Homo sapiens: one gene and its partners. The protein of the gene in region 5 interacts with the protein of the main gene of each other region in a biochemical or structural test. Each region holds a gene or a part of one and is shown on either strand. Other genes may lie near its edges.

Evidence for each region.
Region 1: the proteins of UBE2N (region 5) and ARIH2 form a complex in vitro, tested with the Homo sapiens proteins (one study listed by BioGRID).
Region 2: the proteins of UBE2N (region 5) and MALT1 form a complex in vitro, tested with the Homo sapiens proteins (one study listed by BioGRID).
Region 3: the proteins of UBE2N (region 5) and UBE3A form a complex in vitro, tested with the Homo sapiens proteins (one study listed by BioGRID).
Region 4: the proteins of UBE2N (region 5) and XIAP form a complex in vitro, tested with the Homo sapiens proteins (one study listed by BioGRID).
Region 6: the proteins of UBE2N (region 5) and RFFL form a complex in vitro, tested with the Homo sapiens proteins (one study listed by BioGRID).
Region 7: the proteins of UBE2N (region 5) and SIAH2 form a complex in vitro, tested with the Homo sapiens proteins (one study listed by BioGRID).

What each region holds. Positions count from the first base shown.
Region 1 is NC_000003.12:48,977,842-48,981,341, reverse strand, and holds part of ARIH2 (E3 ubiquitin-protein ligase ARIH2), read right to left. Parts: intron 1,861-3,500; coding exon 1,709-1,860; intron 990-1,708; coding exon 846-989; intron 1-845.
Region 2 is NC_000018.10:58,747,965-58,751,464, reverse strand, and holds part of MALT1 (mucosa-associated lymphoid tissue lymphoma translocation protein 1), read right to left. Parts: 3' UTR 1-3,500. UniProt on the Homo sapiens protein: Protease that enhances BCL10-induced activation: acts via formation of CBM complexes that channel adaptive and innate immune signaling downstream of CARD domain-containing proteins (CARD9, CARD11 and CARD14) to activate NF-kappa-B and MAP kinase p38 pathways which stimulate expression of genes encoding pro-inflammatory cytokines and chemokines.
Region 3 is NC_000015.10:25,355,525-25,359,024, reverse strand, and holds part of UBE3A (ubiquitin-protein ligase E3A), read left to right. Parts: intron 1-2,128; coding exon 2,129-2,334; intron 2,335-2,968; coding exon 2,969-3,133; intron 3,134-3,500. UniProt on the Homo sapiens protein: E3 ubiquitin-protein ligase which accepts ubiquitin from an E2 ubiquitin-conjugating enzyme in the form of a thioester and transfers it to its substrates.
Region 4 is NC_000023.11:123,898,053-123,901,552, forward strand, and holds part of XIAP (E3 ubiquitin-protein ligase XIAP), read left to right. Parts: intron 1-2,440; coding exon 2,441-2,641; intron 2,642-3,500.
Region 5 is NC_000012.12:93,431,948-93,435,447, forward strand, and holds part of UBE2N (ubiquitin-conjugating enzyme E2 N), read right to left. Parts: intron 1-3,500. UniProt on the Homo sapiens protein: The UBE2V1-UBE2N and UBE2V2-UBE2N heterodimers catalyze the synthesis of non-canonical 'Lys-63'-linked polyubiquitin chains. This type of polyubiquitination does not lead to protein degradation by the proteasome.
Region 6 is NC_000017.11:35,053,708-35,057,207, forward strand, and holds part of RFFL (E3 ubiquitin-protein ligase rififylin), read right to left. Parts: intron 788-3,500; exon of another isoform or gene 681-787; intron 1-680.
Region 7 is NC_000003.12:150,740,625-150,743,397, forward strand, and holds the end of SIAH2 (E3 ubiquitin-protein ligase SIAH2), read right to left. Parts: intron 2,075-2,773; coding exon 1,517-2,074; 3' UTR 501-1,516; downstream 1-500. UniProt on the Homo sapiens protein: E3 ubiquitin-protein ligase that mediates ubiquitination and subsequent proteasomal degradation of target proteins.

The DNA of each region.
Region 1 (3,500 bases), on a different chromosome or scaffold from region 5:
TTTTTTTTTTGAAACAAGGTTTTGTTCTGTTGCCCAGGCTGGAGTGCAGTGGTGCAATCCCCACTCACTGCAAACTCTGCCTCCCAGACTCAAGCGATCCTCCCACCTCAGCCTTCCAAGTAGCCAGGACTACAGGTGTGCATCACCACACCAGGCGAACGTTTGTATTTTTTTTGTAGAGACGGGGTTTTCTCATGTTGCCCAGGCTGGTCTCAAACTCCTGGGCTCAAGCAATGCACCTGCCTTGGCCTTCCGAAGTGCTGGGATCATAGGCGTGAGACACTGCACCCTGCCCAATCTTTTTTTTTTTTTTTTTTTTTTTTTTGACAGTCTTGCTTTGTCACCCAGGCTGGAGTGCAATGGTGTGATCTCGGCTCACTGCAGCCTCTGACTCCCAGGTTCAAGCAATTCTCGTGCCTCAGCCTCCCAAGTAGCTGGAACTACAGGCATGCACCACCATGCCCAGCTAATTTTTGTATTTTTATTAGAGACAGGATTTCACCATGTTGGCCAGGCTGGTCTCAAACTCCTGACCTCAAGTGATCAGACAATCTTTTATTTTCCTTTGAGTGATACATAAACAGGACAAAAGGAGAAGAAAAGTGCTCTAGTTTTCCCTGCAGGCAGAGGCAGTGCAACACTCTTATAAATCCCCTGGACATCCATCAGAGGACTGGGTCCTTAATGGGCACAGCACATGAAAATGTGGATCCACAAGCAGAAGCATGAAAGGCTGCACAGGGTGCTAAAATACCCTCTTTCAACAGAGCTTCCCACTATCAGAGGTCTGTGCCTGACGGAGCCAGGCACTGGACCAGGGATAAGATGAGTGAAGTGGTAGATACCTTGGCCAAGAGCTTGGCAGCATTCTGTAGGTACTGCCAGTCGATCCATGTCCCCAGATTGTTCATGACCCTCTCCTGAATCTTCTCGTGAATCCGCTGGTATGTCTGTGCCTCTAGCTGCAAGCTTTTATTGTGGTTTTCCCACTACAGGGCACAGAAGAAGAAGAAAACCACAGGAGTCCCATGAAGGTGCAGAGGTCTACACAGGAGTTCAGGATAGACACCTTGCTGGCAGGACATGGCCACAGACTCCTCTAACTTATTCCCCAAAGTGCAAGAGCAGGTCTTCTTCAGTCCATCCTTCTAACCTGTCCAGAGCAGCTGTATGCTTACTGCCAGATCGCTCTACCCTTCTGGGGCAACAGGACTCGAGCCCTGAGGACTCTGCAAAGCTAGGCCCCTGATGGTCTACTATGCTTAGAGACCATTATGCATGGGGCTCTTTGGGCTTCTAAAGGGCTCCCTGGGAGAAACTGCCTTCCAAATCTGACTACTAAGATGATACTATGGGAACAGATTGTGAGGACAGAAAGAAAAAAATAAATAAAAATTAAAAACGTAGAAAAAAGAAAAAAAAAAAAAGATGGTACTAGATGGAAAAGACTGTCTGATGGCCCTTCATTGTCCTTCAATCCATCATTCAACCAAGGTCAGTACCAGGTCCTTCCCTGTTGGCTGGGGATATACCCTATAGAGCTTGAAAGGCACATCTATAGAGGCAGCACCAGGGATACTGCAGGAGCTCCATTCACTGACTTCTATGTGCACAGGCTAGCTCTGTCTACCAGTCCCTGGGAATCCCACCAGCAGGCCAAGTGGAAGAAGCCTACCCTGTAGGGGAAGGTACAGGAGAGGACACCTACCCTCTCAAAGTAGAATAAGTACTTCTTGAGGGCTTCCCTCGCCTGGGCTTGTTGGCTCTGGTTCACGATGTCAGGATTCTCCTTGTAACGACTGCACTCATAGTATTCACTGCCATGAGTCTTCCAATCTCCTAGACACATCCAGCAGAAGTCTGTGCAGAACAGAGGAAGAGTCATTTACATCTACAAGACAACTCCACTTTCCTCCATAGGCAGAGGAGTGAGACAGACAGACCCTGCTCCCAAAGGGGTCACCTGAACACAACTTCCCAAGGGTGCCTCTTTCCCGAAGGAATGTGCACCTCTCATCCCTGTCACATCCTACTGTCCTTGTAGCCTGTACTTGCTGATAGGAACAAAAGCCTATGGATAATTTCTATTCCATGAGCACATGTGCCATGCGCCTTATTAATCTAACACAGGCAGATGCTGACCATACAGACTACTGGTCTGCTATGTCAATGCCACTATAAGAAGGAGGAACTAGTCCAACTGAGGCCGACCTGACTGTCTTAAACGCACATCATCAGTACAAACTGACCTCCCTACTGCTTCCTACCCTCACACTTGTCCTAGAAAGATTTTTGTATATGAAACTAAGAATAAAGGCTTTCCCCCTTTTTCTTCTATTTTAAAAAACACATTTCTTATTTTTCTTTTTCTTTTTTTTTTTGAGACAGAGTCTCACTCTGTCACCCAGGCTGGAGTGCAGTGGCGCGATCTTGGCTTACTGCAACCTCTGCATCCCAGGTTCAAGCGATTCTCTTGCCTCAGCCTCCCGAGTAGCTGGGACTACAGGTGCCTGCCAACATGCTGGCTAATTTTTGTATTTTTAGTAGAGATGGGGTTTCACCATGTTGGCCAGGCTGGTCTCGAGAACCCCCAGTGTTCAGTGATTCGCCCATCTCTGCCTCTCAAAGTGCTGGGATTATAGGCGTGAGCCACTGCGCCTGGCAAATAACACATTTCTATAAAACCTAGAGCTATCCAATGGTTCATAATCAGAATTATGATTCTGCTTTTGCGGTAGCTCACACCTGTAATACCAGCACTCTGGGAGGCCAAGGCGGATGGATCACCTGAGGTCAGGAATTTGAGACCAGCCTGGCCAACATGGTGAAACACCCGTCTCTACCAAAAAAAAAAAAAATATATATATATATATATACACACACACACACACACACACACACACACACACACACACACACATACACAAATTAGCCAGGTGTGGTGGCACATGCCAGTAGCTACTTGGGAGGCTGAAGCACGAGAACTGGTTGAACCTGTAGGGCGGAGGTTGTGAGCCGAGATTACACCACTGCACTCCAGCCTAGGTGACAGAGCGAGACTGTGTCTCAAAAAAAAAAAAAAAAATCCCCTATATGTTCAAAAAATTATTGTTAGATGCTCAAAGAATTACTGCAGTCTAATGGAGAGAAGCCAACCACAGTTTTGTTGGATGAACAATGGCCTGTTGATATTCTGCATTCCATGAGCACATGGGCTATGTGCCTTGTTATATCTGTGTCAAGGCTGCTATGAGAAGCAAAACTTGTCTGAAGTCCTCCTGGTTGTCTAGAACACACATTGTTCTAATAATACCTTATTAGATTTTATATCTGGCCTATTCTGCCTCTTCCAGACCCTGACAATGGTAAATCCTGTTTCCCAGGATTCACTCTCCAGGGATAACTTGGCTTACTGACTTCCCCAAAAATGAGGCTCTTGAATCATTTTAGGGAAGCCAAAGCAAAACCCGGAGACCCAGAGGTTGTTCAATTTTTCTCCT
Region 2 (3,500 bases), on a different chromosome or scaffold from region 5:
GCTGAGACTATGTCGCTGCACTCCAGCCTGGGCGACAGAGCCAGGACTCTGTCTTAAAAAAAAAAAAATCAAATATACAGAAGAGTATAAAGGGGAAGTACGATTCTCCTGCCTCAGCCTCCCTAGTAGCTGGGATTACAGGTGTGTGCCACCATGCCCAGCTAATTTTTTTGTATTTTTAATAGAGACAGGGTTTTGCCATCTTGGTCAAGCTGGTCTTGAACTCCTGGGCTCAAGTGATCCGCCTTCATTGGCCTCCCAAAGTGCTGAGATTATAGGCGTGAGCCACCACACCCATCCTAAAACTAAAATTTTATGTTCAGTTCCTCACACTAGCTATTATTTCAACTGCTCAACAACCCCATGAGGCTAAAGGCTATCACACTGGGAGTGCGGATACCAAGCATCCCATCATCACAGCAAGTTCACTGGACAGTGCTGCTCGGTGGTAACCACAGCTGAGCACCTGCATGTTTGTTTGTTTTTTTATCAGATACATGATTTTTCAAAAATTTTTCTCCCATTCTGAGGGTTAACTTCACTTTCTTAATGGTGTCCTTTAAGGCGCTAAAGTTAATTTTGATGAAGTCCCATTTATCTACTGTTTGCCTTTGTTGCTTGTGCTTTTGGTATTATGTCTAAGAAACCATTCCTAAGCCCAACATCACAAAGATTTACTTCTGTTTTCTTCTAAGAGTTTAAACTCTTATATTGAGGTCTATGATCCATTTTGAGTTAGAATTTGTAATGTGGTAGGAAGGTAGGGATCCTTTTGCTGTGCACGTAGCTACCAGTTAGTTGTCCCAGCACCGTTTGTTGAAAAGACCACTCCTTCTCTATTGATGGTATTGGCATCCTTGTTGAAAACAAGTTGACCAGAAATGTATGGGTTTATTTCTGGATGTTCAGTTCCATTCCTCTGATCGATATGTCTATCCATATGCCTACACTGTCTTATTGTAGCTTGGTAGCACTTTTTGAAATTGGTACGTCTTCCAACTTTGTTCTTTTCCAAGGTTTTTTGGCTATTCTGGGTCCCCTGCGTTTCCCTACCAATTTTACCAGTTTGTCAATTTCTGCAAAAAATACAGCTAGGATTTTGATAGGAATTGTTGAATATGTAGACTAATTTGGGCAGCATTGCCATCTTACCAATATTCAGTCTTCCAATCCATGAACATGGATGTCTTTCCATTTATCTGGATCTTAATTTCTTTAAACGTGTTGGAGTTTTATTCTTGATGCTACTGTATATAGGATTTCTTTATTCTCATTTTCAGAATGTTTGCTGTTAGTAGAGAAATAAAACTGATCTTGTATCCTGCAACCTGTTGAACTCATTTATTACTTTTTATGGATTCTTTAGCATTTTCTATATACAACTATGTATCAACTGTGAATACATATAGTTTCACTTCTTTTGCAGTATAAACCTCTTTTCTTTATTAGCTTATTTGATTTTTAGATGTTGAACAAACCTTGAATTCCTAACCTAACTGCTGTGGCTAGAACTTCAAGTACAATGCTGAATAGAAGTAGTGCCGAGTGAACATCCTTGTCCTTCTTCCCAATCTTAAGGGGAAAACATTCAGCCTTCAGTCTATCACCATGAAGTATAATGTTAGGTGTGGGCTTTTCATAGATGTTATATTTATCATATCTAGGAAGATTCCTTTTATTCCTAAGTTTGTTGAGTGTTTTTATGAAAGAGTTTTGGATTTTATCAAATGCTGTAATAAGACAATCTGTGTGGGTTTTGTGCTTTATTAAATATGGTACAGTTGATCCTCATTATTCAAGGTTATGTATTTGTGAATTTACCAACTTGCTAAAATTTATAACCCTCAAATTGATATCCGTGGCACTTTTGCAGTCATTTGTGGATATGTGTAAATGGGTGAAAAATTTGAGTCACCCAGTACACATGTTCCCAGCTGAGGCTGAACAAGATGATGCTCTGCCTTCCTGCTTCAGTCTCATAGAGAAATGACTGGAGGGTGGAAATGGCAGGGGCAATTCTGTGTAGTACAAGAAGCTCTGGCTCCGGGGCCAGCTGGATGGGGTTTGAATTTCAGCTCTGACACCTGTTAGGGGGGTGCCTCAGGCATGTCACTTAACACTTCTGATACCTCACTTTCACTTCTGTAAAATAAGGTAGAATTTGCTAGGATGAATTAAGAATTCAAGCTCATAATGTGTGTGAGATAAACATATGTATACACACATATACACAAATACACTTTCTCCTAAAAGCAGTTGTTCCATATTTAATTCAGTGTTTATGGGAGAATATTCTGTAGAACATAATTACTGTGAATAATGAGAACTGACTGTATATTAGCTTATTTGATTTTTAGATGTTGAACCAACCTTGAATTCCTGGGATAAATTCCACTTGGTCATGATATAGAATCCTTTTTATAGGTTGCTGGATTCAGTTTGCTAATATTTTTGTTAATGATTTTTGTGTTTGTATTAATAAGGAATATTGGCTTATAGTTTTCTTGTGATGTCTAGTCTAGTATCAGGGTAATACTGACCTAGAGTAAGTTGGGAAGTGTTCTTTCCTCTCCTACTTTTAGAAACAGTGTGCAAAAAATTAGTGCTAATTTTAATGTTTGGCAGAATTCAACAATGCAGCCATCTAGGCCTGGGATTTTCTTTGTGAGACTTTTAAAATTACTAATTCAGTATTTTTCCTTGTTAATGCCAATTGCATTTTTAACCAACTTTTAGGTAGAGCCAAAGATAAGAGTATTATCTCATTAGGCCAGTGAAATTCAAGAAGAAAATACATATTATCAAGGAAGATGCTAAATATTTGGGAAATTCTGATAGGCAGCTATGAAAATTATCCATTATATCTTGATTCTTAACCTCTATCTAGCTTTAACAAACATTTTATCACTTCTCATGTGGTTTCATAATCTTATGAACAAGAAATTTCAGCCTGTTCTATAACAGATTTATATACAAACCTCTTAACTAAAACTTGCAGTGAAGTCCTTATAATCAAAAACTAAAGTTTGTACATTCCTTGAGATAATACACAGATATGTATCTGTATATATTTATATATATATAAATATATTTCACTCTATCTACAAACATAACACTTATCTCAGAACCTGTCAGGAAGGCAGTTGTGTAGTGGAAAAAATACTGGAATAGATTTCTGGAGGTCTCAGTTCTGGTGCCAGCTCTAACTTAGATGCCTTTCTGTGTTTCTTCCATGGATAAAATTAGGTTATGCCTGGTGATCGGCAAGGTTCTTTCTGGTGTTAAAAATACAATGACTTATTCTACAATAATGCCATTCCCATTGCTCTTACTTCAGAGTGGTCACAATGAAAATATTTTGTTATATACATATAAACATACACACCTCCATACTTCATTTGTATAGAACTATTCAACCAATTCACAAAATCTTAGAAAGAGGAAGTCTGTAATTAAATAATGTAATTTCAACATCTCAAAGTCCTGAAGTTTGCTATGAA
Region 3 (3,500 bases), on a different chromosome or scaffold from region 5:
AACTTATAGCTTGTTGCTCTTGGTTCCAAGGAAGGGCATTTGTGACATTTTATTAAATTCATTAATTTTTTAGACACACCATTGTCAGCTTGAACAAATTTATTAATTGTAATTATTTGTCAGCTGTTCTTGATCCTGTTAATACCATACTTATAACTAAAAGCATTTCCATGGATGTTGTAACTTGGCCTGTAAAAAAAATGTTTAGATAGAAACCATGAAACTCAAATATGAATTGTTTAATTTTCAAACCATTTTGCATTCAGAAAATGTCCTAAGCTTAATTCATACTCCTAGTGATCAAGGAAACATGTTAAAGCTCCTTATTTTTAAACTTAAAGTGACAATGACATTTTCAAAGATTTTAAAATTCTTATAAACAGGTTAAAATACTTATATACTGTATAATTTGATTTCTGATTTCTAAGCTCTACTTTTCTATTGGAAATTACAGATTTTTTTCAGACTTAATTCTTAAGATGTTTTCATTGTTTCACAGTAGCAACTAAACATGTAGTAAAATGATTTAAATTCAATTAAAATTTTTTTCCTTAGTCATTTAAAAGGGAAGAAATCAATTTTTAGTAGTACTCATTCCAAAGATTCCAATTTTCCTTTTTTTTAATCTTTTATTTTTTGGTGGAGGGAGGCAGGATCTGGCTCTGAGGCCCAGGCTGGAGTGTAGTGGTTCTGTCTCGGCTCACTGCAACCTCCACCTCCCAGGCTGAAGACTCAAACCATCCCCATGCATCACCCTCTCAAGTAGCTGAGACTATAGGCACATGCTACCACACCCAGCTTATTTTTTGTGTTTTTGTAGAGATGGGGTTTCTCCATCTTGCCCAGGCTGGTCTTGAACTCCTGAGCTCAAGTGATCTGCCTGCCTCAGCCTCCCCAAAGTGCTGGGATTACAGGTGTGAACTACCACACCGGGCCCCAATTTTCCAATGAGTGATATAAAAAAGGCCTCCACGCAGGCGCCTGTAGTCCCAACTACTCCGGAGGCTGAGGCCAGAGAATGGCATGAACCCGGGAGGCGGAGCTTGCACTAAGCTGAGTGCTGCTGCACTCCAGCTTGGGCGACAGAGCGAGACCGTCTCAAAAAAAAAAAAAAAAAAAAAAGCCTCCATGATTGGGGCTTGCATAGTGAAGACCATGTGAAATTGAAAGACTACGAAACTACTTTTCTTTTACGTATTGGCCCATAATTAACATGTGTATTGAATAGCTTTGTTTATCTAAGTTCATCAGATTTATCCAGGTTTATGTATTTCAGATCATCTGATTTTATTAGGAAAATGCTAGAAAAATTTCATGGCACCATTGTCTAATTTTGAAAAAACGAACCTTTCTTTACTGTGATTAAAAATTGTTTTTTAGGCCAGGTGTGGTGGCTCACGCCTGTAATCCCAGCACTTTGGGAGGCTGAGGCTGGCAGATCACGAGGTCAAGAGGTTGAGACCATCCTGGCAAACATGGTGAAACCCCTTCTCTACTAAAAATACAAAAATTAGCTGGCGTGGTGGTGCACACCTGTAGTCCTAGCTACTCAGGAGGCTGAGGCAGGAGAATTGTTTGAACCTAGGAGGCAGAGGTTGCAGTGAGCTGAGATCGTGCCACTCCAGCCCACCCTGGGTAACAGAGCGAGACTCCATCTCAAGGAAAAAAATGAAAAATTGTTTTCAAAAATAGTACGTGTGGTACAGATATAAGTAATTATATTTTTATAAATGAAACACTTTGGAAATGTAGCCATTTTTTGTTTTTTTATGTTTATTTTTCAGCTATGGGTGGATAAAGCATGAATATAACTTTTCTTATGTGTTAGTAGAAAATTAGAAAGCTTGAATTTAATTAACGTATTTTTCTACCCGATGCCACCAAATTACTTACTACTTTATTCCTTTGGCTTCATAAAATTACATATCACCATTCACCCCAATTTATAGCAGATATATGTGGACATTGTTTTCTCAAGTGCTAATATAATAGAAATCAATGTTGCATGCCTAATTACATATATTTTAAATGTTTTATATGCATAATTATTTTAAGTTTATATTTGTATTATTCATCAGTCCTTAATAAAATACAAAAGTAATGTATTTTTAAAAATCATTTCTTATAGGTATGTTCACATACGATGAATCTACAAAATTGTTTTGGTTTAATCCATCTTCTTTTGAAACTGAGGGTCAGTTTACTCTGATTGGCATAGTACTGGGTCTGGCTATTTACAATAACTGTATACTGGATGTACATTTTCCCATGGTTGTCTACAGGAAGCTAATGGGGAAAAAAGGAACTTTTCGTGACTTGGGAGACTCTCACCCAGTAAGTTCTTTGTCATTTTTTTAATTCAGTCTCTTAGATTTTATTTAAATGCAAAAATTTAATTTATGTCAAAATTTTAAAGTTTTTGTTTAGAATCTTTGTTGATACTCTTATCAATAAGATAAAAATGTTTTAATCTGACCGAAGTACCAGAAACACTTAAAAACTCAAAGGGGGACATTTTTATATATTGCTGTCAGCACGAAGCTTTTGTAAGATTGATTTCATAGAGAAGTGTTTCTAAACATTTTGTTTGTGTTTTAGTGAAATCTTAAGAGATAGGTAAAAATCAGAGTAGCCCTGGCTAAGGGTCTTGGTAGTTACAACGAGTGTGCCTGCTCCTACCACCCCCACCCCCACCTTGAGACACCACAGAATTTCTCATAGAGCACAGTGTGAATTCTATTGCTAAATTGGTGGTATGGGGTTTCTCAGCAGAGAATGGGACATCACAGTGACTGACAATCTTTCTTTTATAGGTTGGAAACTATTTGGGGGACTGGAGGGATACTGTCTACACTTTTTACAATTTTTATTGATAAGATTTTTGTTGTCTTCTAAGAAGAGTGATATAAATTATTTGTTGTATTTTGTAGTTCTATGGTGGCCTCAATTTACCATTTCTGGTTGCTAGGTTCTATATCAGAGTTTAAAAGATTTATTGGAGTATGAAGGGAATGTGGAAGATGACATGATGATCACTTTCCAGATATCACAGACAGATCTTTTTGGTAACCCAATGATGTATGATCTAAAGGAAAATGGTGATAAAATTCCAATTACAAATGAAAACAGGAAGGTAATAAATGTTTTTATGTCACATTTTGTCTCTTCATTAACACTTTCAAAGCATGTATGCTTATAATTTTTAAAGAAGTATCTAATATAGTCTGTACAAAAAAAAAACAAGTAACTAAGTTTATGTAAATGCTAGAGTCCACTTTTCTAAATCTTGGATATAAGTTGGTATGAAAGCACACAGTTGGGCACTAAAGCCCCTTTTAGAGAAAGAGGACATGAAGCAGGAGATAGTTAATAGCTAAGTGTGGTTGTAGTATAAAGCAAGAAGCAGGGTGTTTCTTGTATTAAGCTGTAAGCAGGAACCTCATGATTAAGGTCTTTATCACAGAACAAATAAAAATTACATTTAATTTACACATGTATAT
Region 4 (3,500 bases), on a different chromosome or scaffold from region 5:
AGACTGAATCTAATCCTGCACTTTTTTCTCCTGTATTGGTTAATAGTACCACAGTTCACAAGGTTGCCCAGTAATTTATGTTGTTCCTAAGCTCTTTGCTCTCTGTAATCCTTTTACATTTAATTAATCATCAAATTTGATGGATTCCACCTTTTTAATGTTGCTTCAGACTTTCCCACTTATTCTGCTCTAGTTCAGGCCCTTCCTTGTTTTTCAACTGGACAATTGTAGTAGTCTCCTAACTGGTCTTTTGTCTGTATTATAACCTGCCAACAGAGTTTTTCTTTTTGTTTGTTTGTTTTTGTTTGTTTTGTTTTTTTGTTTTTCTGAGACGGAGTCTCGCTCCGTCACCGAGGCTGGAGTGCAGTGGCGCGATCTCGGCTCACCGCAACCTCCACCTCCGGGGGTCACGCCATTCTCCTGCCTCAGCCTCCTGAGTAGCCGGGACTACAGGCGCCCACCACTATGCCCGGGTAATTTTTTTTTTTATTTTTTGGTATTTTTTGCAGAGACGGGGTTTTGAACTCCTAGGCTCAAGCGATCTGCCCGTCTTAGCCTCCCGAAATGCTGGGACTACAGACGTGGGCCACCATGCCCAGCCTTATCTTTTATTTTTATTTTTTAATATAGATAGGGTCACACTTTGTTGACCAGGGTGGTTTCAAACTCCAGGCCTCAAGGAATCCCCCTTGGCCTCCCCAAAGTGCTGGGATTACAGGTGTGAGCCACTGCACCCAGCCTCCTCTCTTTCAAAAAACATTTATTGAGCTATAATATACATACAGTAGCCGGGCGCAGTGGCTCACGCCTGTAATCCCAGCACTTTGGGAAGTTGAGGCAGGTGGATCACGAGGTCAGGAGTTCGAGAGCAGCCTGGCCAATATAGTGAAACCCCATCTCTACTAAATATACAAAAAAATTAGCCAGGCGTGGTGGTGCATGCCTGTAATCCCAGCTACTCGAGAGGCTGAGGCAAGAGAATTGCTTGAACCTGGGAGGTGGAGGTTGCAGTGAGCCGAGACGCGCCATTACACTCCGGCCTGGGTGACAGAGCGAGACTACGTCTCAAAAAAAAAAAAAAAAAAAAAAAAAATATATATATATATATATATATGATTTTATATATATATGATTTTATATATATATGATTGTGTATATATATATGATTTTGTATATATATATGATTTTGTATATATATATGATTTTGTATATATATGATTTTGTATATATATATGATTTTGTATATATATACACACGCACACATACACACATAAAGTGCTTAAAGTACCCTAATCGTAAGTTTTCTACTTGATGAATTTTAACATATATATGTTAAAATATATATTAAATATGTGTTAAATATATATTAAAATGTATATGTTAAAATATATATATTTATCTGTGTGACTATCCCCCAGATTAAGATATAGAACATTCCCACAACCCTAGAAAGTTCTTTCATGCTCCTTCCCCATCAGTACCCACCCCCAAGTTATATTCTGGCTTCTATTACCATAGATTAATTTTGTTTATTACCATAGATTAGTTTTGAAGTTCTTATAAATGGACTCATGCAGTAGGTACTCTTTTGTGTCATAATGATGAATTATGATTATGTTTTGCTCATTATATCTATGAGATCCATCCATATTGTCTGTGGCAATAGTTTTTTTTTTTTTTCTTGCTGTGTAGCGTATGAATATACCACAATTTATGTATCTGTTCACCTGATGATGGACATTTGAGTTGTTTCCAGTTTGGGGCTATTATAAATAACACTACTATGAATACTCTTGTGCATATCTTTGGCAGAGATATACACTCATTTTTAATACCCAAGAGTGGAATTGATGAGTCAGAGGGTATAAGTGTCCTCTCCTAGCACTTCCCTACACATGCTGTGTTCCTACTTTAAGTATCATAAAAACAAGTTTCCATTGACTTTCTTGCTTTATTCAGTCCTACCCGCTCTGCTACAGAAACGAAGTTTGAGAGCTAGGAAATTGACACATTCAAGGTTATAGACTGGGACTTCCCTGATTTCCCATCATTTTCCCCAAATAATTGCTAGTGACTCAGTAACAACATCCACTCTTTAAGTAACTTAGGTTAATTGTTAATGAGTACAGCTAGATTCAAAACAGTTCAGATTTTTGAAGCACTTAACCTTTTTCTTGCCTATTTTACCTTGCATCGTTTCAAACACTACAAAATACATACTCATTGCATTTACAATTAATTGTAAGATTCTGAAAGTGATTTTTCAGTGCCTGAATACTTCAAAAAATCTTCCCAAAGCAGCTTTGCTTTGCTGGTTTGTTTTTATTCTTTCGCTTGCTCCTTAATTTTTTCATTTTAACTATATTTTGCTATTGAGTTGTGATAATGAAAATAATTGTTTAAATTCTATGTTCTTTTTCCTCACCAATTTTTATTTCAGATGATACCATCTTCCAAAATCCTATGGTACAAGAAGCTATACGAATGGGGTTCAGTTTCAAGGACATTAAGAAAATAATGGAGGAAAAAATTCAGATATCTGGGAGCAACTATAAATCACTTGAGGTTCTGGTTGCAGATCTAGTGAATGCTCAGAAAGACAGTATGCAAGATGAGTCAAGTCAGACTTCATTACAGAAAGGTATGCATTGCTGTTTTTAAAAAGCAAGAAAGGGCCAGATGTGGTGGCTCATACCTGTAATCCCAGCACTTTGGGAGGCTGGGACAGGTGGATATGGACATTTTTTAAACGTAACCTTAATGCTGTGTGTTAGTCTGCTCAAGCTGCTATAATAAAATTCCATAGACTAGGTGTCTTAAACAACAGACTTATTTCTGACAGTTTTGGAGGCTCCAAAATCAAGGTGCTGGCTGATTTGGTTATTGATGAGGGCCCTCTTCCTACCTTGCAGATGGCTGCCTTCTCACTGTGTCCTCACATGGCATGGGTTGGGATTGGATGGGACAAGATGGAGCAAGTACTCTGGTCTCTTTTCCTCTACTTTTAGGAACACTAATCCCATCATGGGGGGGTCTCATCTTCATGACCTCATCTAAACCTAATTACTTCCCAAAGGCCTCATTTCCAAATATCATTACATTAATCATGGAAAAAAGATTAAAAATATGAGTTCTACCAGCCTGGACAACATAATGAAACTGTCTCTACAAAAAATACAAAAATTAGCCGGGCATGGTGGTGTGTGCCTGTAGTCCCAGCTCCTTGGGAGGCTGAGCGGGGAAGATCACCTGAGCCAGGGAGGTCAAGGCTGCAGTGAGCCATGATCATGCCACTACACTTCGGCCTGGGCAACTGAGCAAGATCTTGTCTCAAAATATATGTATCTCTCCTTTAAGGATGATGGACACTGTAGTGCTTGCCAACAACATCGAAGGTTAAAGAAGAAGTTTCAAACTGAGTACACTTTTGGGTACTTTACCTGTAATAGTTCTCTAAGCTCTTGACCATCCTCCCTCCAAAAAGATGAGAATTCTCCTAC
Region 5 (3,500 bases):
CCTCGGCTGGGCGCGGTGGCTCCTGCCTGTAATCCCAGCACTCTGGGAGGCTGAGGCGGGCGGATCACGAGGTCAGGAGTTTGAGACCAGCCTGACCAACATGGTGAAACCCTGTCTCTACTAAAAATACCAAAATTAGCCGGGTGTGGTGGCGTGCACCTGTAATCCCAGCTACTCAGGAGGCTGAGGCAGGAGAATTGCTTGAACCCGGGAGGCAGAGGTTGCAGTGAGCCAAGTCACGTCACTGCATTCCAGCCTGGGCCACAGAAATTTGTTTCATGACTGTGTTTTCCATTACACAGGGATGCCTTTCTTGTTCACCTGGCTTACTGGTAAATGCATATTATGCATTCAATGAATGTCCAATTAATTGAACTGAAAAAAAATCTCATGAATGGATAATAAAGAGACACGCAAATCACAAGGTTACAGAAAACTGAAATTTGGCCTTGGGATCGGCCTATGTTACTAAAACCACTTTGTCCCTGCCTCATAGTAAGATGGTAATCTAGTTGTCTTTAAGAGTCACAAAAAAAAAAAAACAAAACAAAACAGCTACTTACTAACATTTTCCCGAGTATAAGCTATAATCTTAAGAAAGTTACAGAGCAATAAAAAAATCACCAATGGTTTCATGATATAAATTTGTTAGTTCTTTCTAGTGTTTCCTTAACTACAATGCCTTCAATCCCTAGAACTGTAAAGACTTTCAAAATATAAATTCATTTGCCCAAAATTAACCAAACTGACAGAGACATAATGTGAAGGTATTGAAAACTAAAAAAAAAATTGAAAATCTAAAGACAACATAGCCAGTTGTTTTAATGCAAAATATGTCAACCTTAGATTCTGAAACCAGTATCTAAAATTACTTTAAATTACAGTAGAATCCTAATTATTCAGAAGCATCTCAGTTACTGGCCAATTCAAAACCAAAAATGTCTGTGCCTAAGTACTCAAGAAATTTTAGAATAGCTTCATTCAGGTTTTTTTTTTTTTTTGAGACGGAGTCTTGCTCTGTTGCCCAGGCTGGAGTGCAGTGGGGTGATCTCCGCTCACTGCAAGCTCTGCTGCTCCCGGGTTCACACCATTCTCCTGCCTCAGCCTCCCGACTAGCTGGGACTACAGGCACCCACCACCACGCCCAGCTAATTTTTTTGTATTTTTAGTAGAGACGGGGTTTCACCATGTTAGCCAGGATGGTCTCGATCTCCTGACCTTGTGATCCTCCTGCCTCGGCCTCCCAAAGTGCTGGGATTACAGGCGTGAGCCACCGCGCCTGGCCAGGATTTTTAAAAAATATAAAATGCCCCCAATGGTGTCATGTAGCCCTTGAAAGAATGAATAATAATGAAGTATTTCTGTTGATTCTGAGGGCTCTTAACCAATTATCCAGTTCTTCCAACCACACAGTCATGTTTCTGCCACAAAAGACCCTAGGGCCATCAATCACTTCACTTGGGAAGAAATTTTAAAAGCTGCTAAGATTTTAGCTGAAGTTAAAAGATTCCCTATTATTTAATTGCCTAATTGGTATATCCACATTCATTCCTTCATATATTACATTTGCAAAGAAAATTTCAACTCTAATGAAACAACAGTCCAACTCGTTTTTCGCATACACACATAAGAATTCTTTTCCTTGATATAATATTATTACATAAACTATGCCTCTCATATTTATTTTGTTTTTAGAAAGCAGCACTGTATAAGATACGAATTTGGCACCTAAATCAGAACTCTGATTACTATAATTGTAATGTCAAAAGCCCCTGCTGGATGCTGCTGTCCTCATTTCCTTGTTTCTAGTATTTATTTCTATAGCACATATGCATCCATAGTTCATTATAACAGAAAACATAATGTGTGTTCAGAATCCATACAACTTGAATCTGTAGCATATTTTCTTCTTAAATCCATTTACACAGGTAAACTATCCTATAAGGTATAGGGAAAAAAGAAGAAGAACCGAATTGTACATCAGGAATCTGGTCATCCAACTTCTTTGGCCTACAAATTCCTCACCAGAGAAAGAAAAGGATAGAACAGATGTTCTCTAATGTGTAAAACTCTGGTGGCTCACTCCCGTAGTCCCAGCACTTTAGGAGGCCGAGGTGGGTGGATCACGAGGTCAGGAGATTGAAACCATCCTGGCCAACATGGTGAAACCCGTCTCTACTAAAAATAAAAAAAAATTAGCTGGGTGTGGTGGCGCGTGCCTGTAATTCCAGCTACTCGGGAGGCTGAGGCAGGAGAATCGCTTGAACCTGGGAGGTGGAGATTGCAGTTAGCCGAGTTCGTGCCACTGCACTCCAGCCTGGCGACAGAGCGAGACTCCGTCTCAACAAAAAAAAACTCTGGTTTTAAGAGTGGTCATTAACACGTGTGGAAAAAATTCCAAACTTGAGCAAAGCAAATGCATAACATTTCCAGTCACAGTCATTTAGCACAGTGAATACTAAAGTACTTGATAATTTGACAAAACTTAATTTCACTTGTGCAGGAGTTGATCAATCTGGACTAAAGGAACTGCTTGACACAGAGGAGCTTAAAAAAGAATACTGAACTGACTGCTATTTTTAACTTACTTTCAGTTATGCTCACATTTCATAATCAAAACATTAGATAGTATATTAAAACAGTATCTTTAGAGCCTGAAAGTTTAATCACTATCAAAAGCAGTTCAAGGATTCTTAACATGGAGCACATGGAGACCTAGGGAATCCACAAATAAACTTGGCAAGAATCTGAATCCCCAGAAGTCATACGTTAAAAAAAATAGCTTTTTTTCCTAGGAAGAGGTCAGAAAATTCTTAAGTGAGACAACTGAAAGAACTAAAGAACCACTGTTCCTAGTCAAATTTTTTACAAGTTTTTTCTTAAATTCCAAAGGTGATTTTAATTACAACTTATAACAAATCTGTCTTCATCATAATGAGTTTGTATTTATTTATTTATTTATTTATTTATTTAAGAGACAGGGTCTTGCCTCTATTACCCAGGCTGGGGTGCAGTGGTGCCACTAATAGCTCACTGCAGCCCCGGCCTCCTGGATTCAAGGGATCTTCCTGCCTCAGTCTTCTGTTAGGATTACTGCATGAACCACCATACCTGGCTAAGTTTCCCTGCCCCCACCTGGAGGTACATATATTTCTGAAACATCATGGTAACTTTTCCATGCCTTTTTTTAATTGGAAGAAAACATTATCAGACAAGTATTTTCAGAGCTTAAAACAACAGATAGGACAGGCGCGGTGACTCACACCTGTAGTTCCAGCACTTTGGGAGGCCGAGGTGGGCAGATCACCAAAGGTCAGGAGTTCGAGACCAGCCTGACCAACATGGTGAAACCCTGCCTCTACTAAAAATACAAAAATCAGCTGGGCGTGGTGGCATACACCTGTAATCCCAGCTACTAGGGAGGCTGAGGCAGGAGAATTGCTTGAACCCAGGGGGCAGAGGTTGCAGTTAGCCGAGATCACGCCATTGCACTCCAGCCT
Region 6 (3,500 bases), on a different chromosome or scaffold from region 5:
TTATGGGAAACAATAATCTTTTTTGTAACTATATTCTCCCCCACAAACCATTCTATCTTATAAATCCATGCTCACCAAGCAAGCTTGATATTATTAAATTTGATTGCCAGATCTCTTGATATTGAAAAGCAATTATCCTAACAAATTCCAGAATCCCGTTAACGGAAAAGGAATCCTTCATTCTAAAATAATAAATTGGCATTCCATTCTGAGCTCAATCACTCAAGTCTGAATACAATCCTGTCTTCAAGACTAATTATTTCCAGGTTCTCCACAAAATACATTTTGTGACCCAAGACTAGACTGACGACACAGTGACCAAAATCCTGAGGGGTCATCCTGAGAAGCTAGATTGGCACCACCCTGGCCAGCCCTACCTAATGCCACCCTCGCTCTACAAGCTAACTTGTATAATACTTTCCCATACTTCTCCACCTTCCACCCCTGTCATACCCTTCAATCAAGCACTATAGTGAAGCACTTTACCTTCCTCTCTAACCGTGTAGAGGTCAAATACACCATCTTATCCATTTTTGCATTTTCCTCCATATCCCAATATAACTTGCATCAAAAGAACCACAATAAATATTTACTGTAAAACACAATTTTGCTTAACAACACAAGCCATTGCATTCCACCATTCCCACAAGCTGAGGCCTCTTTCTGATTTATTTTTCCCACATCAGATGGGTAATGCACTGACTTTGTAGTAACAAGGCTTGATGGAGGCACATCTCATACATGTGCATGAAAATCCAATCATTACACTTATGAACAACAAAATAATCCCCTTTCTAATTTACTGAACTCTTACTCTATCTTTTATCTTCCCCTCCCTCCCCCACCTCTCCATTCCTAAACTGCCAGATTACTATAGAAAAATCAGAAGACTTTATTTAACTGGGTTGCTAACAAATTCATACAGCTGGGGTAAGCCATCACTGGGCTCTAAAAACCTTTCATTCCTCTCTAGCTGATGTCCTGATAGGGCTTTCCAAAGAGCAGTGTCATGCAAGGTTTAGGAGCATGGGGCCTGGGTCAGACAGAACTCATAGTCTTCTTTCTGTGTGACCTGTTAAGGTGATTAATTCCCTAAGCGTCATTTTTCTCATCTGTAAAATGAAGTACCTAAAAGAGGTCATTCACACAAATCCTTAACACTAACACAGTGACAGGCTTAGAGTAGGTGCTTAGTAAACACCGATCCAACAGCTTTTTTTTTTTTTTTGAGATTGAGTCTTGCTTTGTTGCCCAGGCTGGAGTGCAGTGGCGCGATTTTGGCTCACTGCAAGCTCCACCTCCCGGGTTCACGCCATTCTCCTGCCTCAGCCTCCTGAGTAGCTGGGACTACGGGTGCCCACCAGCACGCCTGGCCAATTTTTTTGTATTTTTAGTAGACACGGGGTTTCACCGTGTTAGCCAAGATGGTCTCGATCTCCTGACCTCGTGATCCACTTGCCTCGGCCTCCCAAAGTGCTGGGATTACAGGCGTGAGCCACAGCGCCCGGCCAATGGTCACCAATGATCTTCTGATGGATAAATGTGTGATTCTTTCCTATGTCCTCAACCTTCATGACTCCCTGAAGCCCCATGCACCCAAAACCTACCCAAATTCTTCATTATGAAGCTGTCTTCAGAGGGTTACCAAGAACTATGGACAGAAATATAACTTTAATTAAGCATTAGGCCAGGTGCGATGGCTCACCTGTAATCCCAGCACTTTGGGAGGCCAAGGTGGGCGGATCACCTGAGGTCAGGAGTTTGAGACCAGCCTGGCCAAAACGGTGAAAACCCATCTCTACTAAAAATACAAAATTAGCCAGGTGTGGTGGCACACACCTGTAGTCTAGCTACTCAGGAGGCTGAGGCAGGAGAATCACTTGAACCCAGGAGGCAGAGGTTGCAGTGAGCCGAGATCATGCCATTGCACTCCAGCCTGGGCCACAAGAGCAAAACTCCATCTCAAAAAAAAACAAACAAACAAACAAACAAAAAAAAAACATTAATCAGGCTGGATTTTGACACATTTCCTTGTAACTGAAAGTCACACAGCGCTAGATACTGACCATTTGCATCCCTATTGTTTCTAAAGATAGTATCTCTGACATTAGAAGCATAAGGCTTTTTTTTTAAGAATTGCTTGAGATATTTTTCAGATCCCAAATTCTGGTAAAACAGCTGATGCCAACCAGTTTGAAGACCCTCAGAGAGAAATAAAATCAGCATAATACAGTTTTTTCATCTCCGGGTCCCATTACTTCACCTTTCTCTCTCTGACCACCCAACAATCTCCACATTCCAGCCCACTCCAAAATCCTTAAAAACCCTAGCTCCAAACTCCTCAGGAGGACGGATTTGCAGTTCCCTCTCATCTCCTCATTCTGCAGCCCAACAAATAAACCCCGCCCCCAGGTCTTGGGTATTGACTTGCCACACATCAGACAGCACACTTACTCTGGATACACTTGAATTCCCCTTACAGACTCCTTCTCCCACACTGGCTCCCACTGCAAGCGTGGTAGCCTGACTTACCTTTGACATCAATGACCACTCTTGCTCCCTTATTTTCCTTCCCTGGTTCCTTCTTTTGCCCCCTACATAGGCCCTAGGGTTCTGTACTCCATACTCTTCCTTCTTCCTTTCCTTCTCTAGTGAATTTTACTTCTACTTTTTTTTTTTTTTTTTTTTGAGACAAAGTTTTGCTCTGTTGCCCAGGCTGGAATGCAGTGGCATGATCTCGGCTCACCACAACCTCCGCCTCCTGGGTTCAAATGATTCTCCTGCCTCAGCCTTCTGAGTAGCTGGGATTACAGGCATGCACCACCACGCCCGGCTAATTTTGTATTTTTAGTAGAGACGGGATTTCTCCATGTTGGTCAGGCTGGTCTCAAACTCCTGACCTCAGGTGATCTGCCCACTTCAGCCTCCCAAAGTGCTGGGATTACAGGCGTGAGCCACCATGCCCAGCCTGGTTCTACTTTTTAAATGCATCCTGCAACTATCCCGTTCTATGTCCACTGCCATATCCTGCCCTATCTGCGATGATCCTTCTCAAGAAGGGAGACAAACACTTCCTTACTGGTCCCTTCTTTGTGACTCTCTATTCTCTACAGAGTAGCCAGGGTAACCTTTTATTTAGAAAAAGAATCTTTGCTTGTCACTTTCTGTTTTAAGCCTTCAATGGTGTCCCACCACCCTTTTTTTTTTTCTTTTTCTTTTTTTTTGAGACAGAGTTTTCACTTTTGTTACCCAGGCTGGAGTACAGTGGTGCAACCTCGGCTCACTGCAACATCCACCTCCCGGGTTCCAACAATTCTCCTGCCTCAGCCTCCCGAGTAGCACGGATTACAGGCATAAGCCACCATGCCTGGCTAAAATTTTTTATATTTTTAGTAGAGATGGGGTTTCACCACGTTGACCAGGCTGGTCTCAAACTCCTGACCTCAGGTGATCCACCTGCCTCAGCCTCCCAAAGTGCTAGGATTACAGGTGTGAGCCAC
Region 7 (2,773 bases), on a different chromosome or scaffold from region 5:
TGCACTCCAGCCTCTGTCTCAAAAAAAAAAAAAAAAAAAAAGAAAGAAATTGGGACACTGAGGTAAGCAGCCTTCAATCCTTGCTGAGCATTTGGCCCTAATCCTCTAAATTCTTTTGAGAGTTTAGGGTTGGGACTGAGGGAGTGGGTCAGCTTGGATCAACGCCAGCACTCTGGATGTCAGCAGTGGCCAAGCGTCTTCCTTCTGACTCTGTAAAGCTGGAGCAATCCTCTTATTGCACAGGTACTGGCACTGTCAGATAGAAACGACAGCCCTGGGAGGAGACCTGCAGCACTGACAGTCAGTGGTTCAGACACATGAGCCCGGACCCCAGTGCTGTCATGGACCCGTGCCATGACCTTGGCCCAATGACTGTTTCCACAGTGGAAACAAACAGTGAAAGTTCCAACCCCAGATGTAGTGACGAAGGTTCATTGCACTTGCACACAGTAGATGCTCAATAAATACCCATTACTCAATTAGGGAAATGAAGCACAATATCCATTTTTGGAAAATATTTATTAAAAAACTAGTGAATGTGGCAGAAAAACAAAACCAACACACAGCTTTAAATAGCAAGCATATGACACACCGGTTATAAAGCTTTTCCAACTCTACTGATTTAGTCTTTCACACCAGCTACTGTTGAGGAGGGCTTCCGAGGGAAGCCACGTGTAAACGGGTCATCTGTACTAGTGGTGAGCAAAACTAATTACATGAGAACTATCAATGGCCATATGACTTGCTTTCCTAGGCAATCCACCCAAAACATAGGTGAGTGGCCAAATCTCAGGCGTGCGTTCATGTGGATCTATAGTTCTAGTTTTAATTTGAGGGTTGGGGGAAGTTAGGGGATGAAACAGTAGAAAGACAAACAGTATCGGCAGAGGGCAACCTTAAAGCACCTTTAAAATCTGGACCCTTTCCCACAATTTAACCCAGTAATTCTCAAACATTACTGTTGAAAAGAATCACCTGATGAGACTGTTAAATTGGCAGGCTCCCTAAATCTGCAATTTTAAGATAAGCACTCCGGGTGATTCAGTGTCTATTAGCCAGCCATCCAATTTCAGAAACACTGTTTAAAATGCATTAAAACAATTCCTACCTCCCACAAACAAAAGTAAAGGAATCTGCTGACAGTCACTGTGCTTTTGTCAATGTCAAGGGACCAATATGGGAAGGCAGGCAGGAAGGGGCCTCCCATTCCTAACACACTGATCTATAGAAGCCCTGTGCAACAGCCTGTCAAGTGTTGTTTAGGGAGTAAATACAATTCAATAAGAGTTGTTTTAGATCACAGAACAGCATCCAAATCACCAACAGGCCAACCCCATTCATCCCAGGTTAATGAACTTTGTTGGGTCGAAGCCAGATGGGACACTGCTGTTCAAACAAAACACGGGTAATTGTGGGTCCTGACTTGTGAAGACATATGGAATAAAACATCTATAAAAACCTTTATTAAACATAGAGCACTATGCCCAAATAATTTTGAAGGTTTACGAAAGTCACATCATGGACAACATGTAGAAATAGTAACATTGATTCCAAGGTTCCCATTATCTGCAAAAAGATGTGCTATGGCTGTGTCGAAAACAAGGCAGTCGCTGTTCATGATGGCCGCAGCCACACCGTCATGAATCGAACGGGGCGTGGCCTCCCAGGTCAATCTCCGCCGGTTCCCATTCAACTCCAGTCTGTAGGCAAAGTTCTCGGCTTGCTTGCGGGTGCCAATGAGCAGGACGATGGCAAAAAACTGCTGGTGGCCTTCGTACTTCTCTTGTTTCTCCAGCACCAGCATGAAGTGATGGCCAAAACATGACTGCATCATCACCCAGTCGACAGCCCCTGGCAAGTTAATGTCTGTAGCTAGAAAGACGATGTCTTCTCCCTGAAGGGTGGTAATGCTCTTGTGGGCGTGCATGAGATGGGACATCACAGCTTCCAGGGACCCCTGCCACTTGCAGGAAGCACCAGGACATGGGCAGGAGTAGGGACGGTATTCACATATGTCTTCATGTTCTGGTTTCTCCGTATGGTGCAGGGTCAGGGAACAGCCCGTGGTGGCATACTGCAAAGAAAGAAATGCATTGAGCCATTGGGCCTTCTCAAAACTTCTATTGCTTCAACCCTCTATGAGTACTTAACTACTCCATTTTCCTGGGCTTAAACTGTGTTCTTAACTACTTTTGCTCAAAGCAAGTGAAATATTCAAGACTAAAAGTCTCCGTCTCTATTCATCATCAATGCTGTCATGCATAAAATGAAGGGTATTTCCTGAACCAGAAATACGCTGTTTTCCATGCCCCCTGTTCCGCTGTCAAAGGGATCAGAACTAAAGTTCTCTTACTGTGCACATCTCAAAATTGTTGAGCAAGCCCTATAAAAGCTGGTCTTCCCCATATTTTCTGTGAAGCTGTTTTTTAAAGAATTCAATTGCTTGGGTGGTGGGGATGGGGTTGGGCAAGGAATATTATATTATCCCAAGATTAGTTTTCACATATAGACAATATTAACAACAGTATAATTCTGTCGTCCCCCTCCACTGCTTTCTGGCTCAAACTGGTGACTGGCAGGCAGGCCGTGGGGAAGGCTGCCCTTTGGTTCCTTGCTCTTTGCTGCTGGCATCACCAGGCTAGGGCAGCGGAGGCCTGGAGACCCCTTCATACAGCTAGAAATATTACCCCACTGCATCCTTTTGACCTTCCCTCTGGGGGGCTTTGCCCATATTTTTTGGGTGGAAGGAAATCACATCCAAGAGCTACTTAAC